2 separate regions of the Homo sapiens genome follow, and region 1 is linked to region 2. Evidence: fine-mapped expression QTL. A gene starts in region 2. The other region holds a variant in brackets. All regions are shown on one strand. Distances are between the middles of the regions.

What was found. PIP is the estimated chance that this variant, and not a neighbour inherited with it, causes the effect. A credible set is the group of variants that fine-mapping cannot tell apart.
Region 1: its variant is the best candidate, but not a certain one, in a credible set for the expression of CPVL-AS2 in hippocampus (GTEx, PIP 0.75).

What each region holds. Positions count from the first base shown.
Region 1 is chr7:28,974,743-28,977,662 of GRCh38, forward strand. No RefSeq gene overlaps it. Among named protein-coding and RNA genes, the nearest start is that of CPVL-AS2, 3.8 kb to the right of the region's middle. The variant T/G (reference allele first, on the strand shown) is at 1,426.
Region 2 is chr7:28,978,082-28,981,001 of GRCh38, forward strand. It overlaps CPVL-AS2 (CPVL antisense RNA 2), which reads left to right and starts at 1,886. Exons shown (of 5, transcript NR_038965.1): 1 at 1,886-2,017.

The sequences.
Region 1 (2,920 bases), 3.3 kb before region 2:
CTACAGGCACATGCCACCATGCCTGGCTAATTTTTGTATTTTAGTAAAGATAGGGTTTTGCCATGTTGGCCAGGCTGGTCTCGAACTCCTGAACTCATGTGATCGTCCCACCTCGGCCTCCCAAAGTGCTGGGATTACAGGCGTGAGCCACCGCACCTGGCCCCCAATATCTTTTAAAATCCAATCCTTGAGATATTTCTTTTTCATTGCCTGGATGAAACTCAGGCACGCCACAGTTTCTGGCCCTTCCAGGATGTAGGGAATGTAGGGAGATAGAGTGGTAAGAGCAGAAAAGCTCTTTCTTGATTGGCATTAATGTGGTCAGGTTTCTCCAGAGTTGGCACATGTTTCAAGCCAACTGTCTTGTTGGGGCTTCTTAAGAGACCCCACTGAGAGAAGACCTCTTCATTAAAAGACTTCTTGATTTTAATGGATGATGGGTTCCTGGAGGGGCAGAACCAGGTGGCAGCTCTTATCCAGGAGCAAGGTGGGCACAGTTGCCGTAATGGTCATAATGGAGCAGCAAGCGGAACGTCGTAGCATACAGAGACCTTTGCTATTGGCTCACTATTCATAGTGGCCCTAGGACAAACTAGACGGGCAGTCTACTAAGAATTATCTGATTTATATAATCAGAAAATCTCTAGGTCTAGTGAATAGAAACCTGAGCTGTTCAATGGAGAGTCATTGCCTCTCATCTACATTCCAGACCTGAGTCAGTTCTAAAACACAGAAATCCTTAGATTGCCGATTTTCAAACCGTGGCCAAGAAGTTGCAGCAACAGCATCACCTGGGACTTTGTTAGAAATGCACATTATCAGACCCTGCCCCAAACCCACTGACACAAGAACTCAGGAGGTGGGTCCTAGCAATCTTCACTTCAGCTGATTCTGATGCATGCTAAGGCTTGAGAACTCTAAAGTTTAGATGAAGGAGAGGATTGGGAAGTTTGAGGAAGGCCCCTATAACATTGCTATAAGTATCTAGCATAAATCTTCCTTTCAGTCTTCCCCAAAAGACATGCAGCCATTCACTAGGGTAACTGTGTACTGAGGAAGGGGGCATATCCAGGCTTTTGGTAGATTTCTGGACATTGGTTCTGAGTCTATGCTAATCTCTAGAGACCCAAAATGCCTCTGACCCATTGGAGGGGGGTATCACTTATTGGTAATCAGGTAGTAAATGAAATTTGGACCTGTGGCTGCTTCATTGGATTCCAGTGGGTCTCTTCACCTGCGATGTGGTTATCTTCCCATTCCTGAATGGAGCTGTCATCTCAGAAACAAAAAGAGCCCATCTCCATATGGATTTTCTGTCTTGTGTGGTGAGTATTAGTATGGTAGGCAGGGCCAAGTGAAAGCTTCTTGGGATTTCCCCTTCCTATGTAAGAGTAAACTGAAAGCAATACCTTATCCCTGGGGAAA[T/G]GACAGCGATTAGTACTTCTATCTAACATTTGAACAGTACAAGAGTTGTTCTACTGTGTCCTCATTTAGCTCCTCTGTCTGGCATGTACAGAAGGAAGATGGTTATTGGAGAATGACTGTGAATTCTTACAACATTAACAAGTTACTAGACCAGATGTAGTCTCTTTTATTGGATAACACAGCAGAGCTCTTGGCACTTGGTATGCAGCTACGAATCTGGTGGATGCTTTTTCCCCCCGATACCAAATTAGCAAATATCACCAGAAGAAGCTTGCTCTCAAGCAGCTGGAGGAATGGCAAAACACCTCCCTATCTTACCTCAGGCCTGCGTTACCTCTCCTGCTCTCTGACGAGAACTAGTCTGCAGGAGCCTGGACCATCTTGGTATCCTGCAGAACATCCTGCTGATGTGTAATTGACATGATGAGCAGCAAGGAGCAAATATCGTACATGCCTTAATAAGACAAATGTATGCCAGGGGGTGGGAGATGATCCCCAAGAAAAATCAAACGCCTATTGCTTTGGTGAAGATTCTAGGGGTCCAGTGTGGTCTGGAGAATATTGGCATTTCCTCTCCAAAGTGAAAGACAAATTACTGTACTTTGTACCACCTATCACGAAGAAGAGCTATAATATTCTGTGGGTCTTTTTATTTTTGAGGTAACATAAACACTTTTAGAGTCTATTGTTCAGAGCAATGTTGTGAGTTACCTACTACGCTGCAAGTTTTGTCTAGGGACCAGTGCAAAAAAGGGCTCAAGAGAGAGCAGGGTTTCTCAGTCTTGGCACTATTGACATTTACGGGACAGGCAATTCTTTGCTGTGGGGCGGGCCTGTGCATTGCAGGATGTTTAATAGCATGCCTGGCCTCCACCTACCAGATGTTAGTAGCATCACTCCCCATAGTTTTGAGAACTGAAAATGTCTGCAGACATTGCCAAATATTTTCTGGGGTGCAAAATCACCCCCATTTGAGAACCATTGGGCTACAGCATGTCTAGTTAAGCTTTAAGGTGAGAATCATTGGGCTACAGCAGGTCTAGTTAAGCTTTAAGGTGACTACAGTACTGGCTGACAACTGGACTGCAGCCTCGTGAGAGACCCTCAGCCAGATTCTCCCAACTGTGCTGTTCCCAGATTCCTGACCCTCAGAAACAATGTAAGATGATAAATGCATGTTGTGAAGTTTTGGGGTAATTTATTACTCAGGAAACTCAGACAACTAATACACCAGTCCTCTGAGCCATAAGGTTAGGCATGCATGGCAGAAATCCATCATCAGGTGTAAGTAGTAAAATAGTATATACCAGGTTCGGTTTGAGCAGGTCCTTCAGGCACAAGTAAGTTTCAAGAGCAAGTGGCTGTGACTTCCATAGCATCTATTCTTGCTGCAATTTTAATTCACCATCAGTCCACATCTGTGACCTCTTAGGATTGACTGTTGACAGACTAAGAAAACATTTGGGCCTGGTTCGCAGATGGTCCCTTGCAGTTT
Region 2 (2,920 bases):
TCATCAAACTGGTCTGGCTCCTGTCACTGATAAATGACTAACTTGCTGACAGGGGCTCTACCATCTCTGAGTCTCTGATGTGGAGTCATTCCCCAGGGGGACCAGTCAGCCATCAGATTATTGCATGGAACTTCTATTATGAAGGACATGATTTTGTCCTCTAGAATAGACACTATTTATTTTTTCTTTCTTTCTTTTTAAATAGAGACAGGGTCTCACTCTGTCACCCAGGCTGGAGTGCAGTGGTGCAATCATAGCTCACTATAACCTTGAACTCCTGGGCTCAAGTGATCCTCCTGCCACAGCCTCCCAAGTAGCTAGGACTACAGGCACTCACCACCATGCCCAGCTCTTTTTTAAAAAAAATTTTTTTGTTCAGACAGGGTCTCGCTATGTTGCCCAGGCTGGGACACTATTTCTAAATATGCTGTGCATTCACTGCCTGCAGTGGGTTTATCAGTACCACCATCTGTGAACTTAACACAGAGCCTTATTTAATAGCATGATGATTATGACCAAAGAAGTTCTTTGCTTGTGACCAAAGAACTAATTTTACAGCAAAAGTAGTACAGCATTGGTATCATGCCCATGGGACTTATTGGATTACCATGTACTCCAGCACCCAAAGGTAGTTATCATTACAAAATTTAGAAATAGATAACTGAAGTTTCAAAAATGGTACCATCTGGAAGATAACTGCCTGCAGTCTAGGTGGCTTTCTTACTGCACGTAGATTATGCTTTGAATCAGCAAATGAGTGATGCTATGTCTCTCATAGTCAGGATACACAGACCTGGGAGTCAAGGGGTAAAAATGAGAGTGGCTACTCTCACTATCACATCCTGAATATCACTCACAGAATATTTGCCCTCCTTCTACAAAACATAGATCAGCTGGTTTAAAGGTCTTGATTCCTAGGAGAGAACGCTTCCTCTAGGGGAAACAATAACGTTCCACTGAACTGGAATTCGATACTTCTGTCTGCCCATTTCAAGTTTCTTCTGCCACTAAATGGACAGGCAAAGAAGAGGGTTACTTTTCTGGCTGGGGTGACTGAACAGAATTATTACCAGGGAGTAATTGGGTTGCCGTGACACACAATGGTGGCAGAGAGGACTATGTCTGAAGCCCTGGAAATTCTCCTGGGTGCCTCTTAGCACTTCCATGTCCAAGAGTAAAAGTTTCTGGAATAATATTGCAACCTGCAGGACAGCTAAAGACTTAGACCCTTCAAAAATGAAGGTTTCAATAATCTTGCCAAGAAAAGAACCCCAGACAACTAACTTCAGTTGCTGGCTGAAGGTAAAAGGAAGATGGAATGGACGTTGGAAGAAGTTCATTCTCAATTATTATTTAACTATTATCATCATCAGTCAACTAGTTTTGTTACCAGTCACCAAAACAAAACCCGTAGCAGCTATGCACATTTTCTTCTTTGTTTACTCTGCATAACACTGAGTGTTGGTGGTTAATTTTACAACTTAGCCTTTAGGTTGTAGAACATCCATTATAAAAGGTGCAATGGTGTCTGAAAGGAAAAAATTTAACATCACCCTGGGATGAATACAGTGGCTGAGGCCACTATCTTACAGGGTTTTACTCTGAATTATCTGTTTTAGGGAGAGAGTGAACTTGTGTTCATCTGTGTGAGGAATAAAATTGCATTCTGTGAGGAAGAAGTGTGATGTTGCTGTAGGGTGCGTACAATGGAATGTGTGGATGCTGAGTAGCAAAAGGGTGGATGTGCTGGATTGTGTCTCTTGACTCTTAAGTCCAAGTCCACCCTTCTGGATAATCCTCCATCCTCTTTCCCAGACTCACTCATCCAGCTGGTTTCATGGGAGGCGCTGGTGCTAGGTTCCAGTGTGGGAGGAGGAGATTAGCCATTTTCCCCAGCTGGCCTGGACTGCCTGTGCTCTGGGCTCCAGCAATCCGGGGATAGTTTCAGCAAGATCAACACTGAGTATCCCTGACAGGATTCAGCCAAGGGCCAGTGGCAGCTTCCCAGCCTCTTTGGGTAAGAGCCCCTTCTTTTTTTGCTCCTCAGTCCTTCCAGTAGTTTTTAACCAATTTCCTGTGTTCCATCCTACTCTGCTTGAGATATATAGAGAGGTTTCTACTTTTGTGTTTGAGCACTGAATGATACATAGTTCCTTCCATATCAGTCCATAGTGAGCTTCCTCATTCTCTAGTCAAAAAAAAAAAAAAAAAAAAAAAAAAAACCCAAACAAACAAACAAACAAAACAGGAATACATCATATTTATATGAGAAGACCCAATAATGGATATTTAGACTGCTCTCAATCTGCTCTTTTAATCAATAAGAGTAGTAAGTACATTTCCATTTCAGGAAAGTATTATCAAGGCATATATTTGGAAATTTTTGTGTCTTACCCCACTTGGAATTTTACGCGCCAGAGCTCTTATGCAGGAATCTAAATGGCTGAAATAGGATTAAACTAGACTGTGGAATCTAGAGAGCGTTCAACTGCAGCTGGTTATTTATTGCTTAATAAGTATTTTGAAGTATTGTTCGGCTATGTCCTAGCCTTATCTCTTCCAAATGAATTGCAAGCACTCGGAGCTTGATTTTTTGTCATCTTTTGAATATGTAAATGTGTCATGTTGGGAGGGGGGTTGGTAGTACCTCCCTCCTCTGTGATTCATGTCACCTGAATGTGTCATCCTACTGGCAGTCTAGGAAGAGCCCTGCATAGGTCTTAGGTTTTCTCTTGAGGAAGGAGCTCATGACACAGCCAGCACTTCCACATAGGATAGTAGCTCAAATAGAGGTCCAGTTTGTTTTATTATTGGGCTTATTCCAAATTCCTTTCCTGGGGCACTGTGCTTTAGAAATGCTTTTTTCTTAATTATGAAATATTTTAATTGATTTGTGGGCAGTGCCTCTTATTCAGCCTGT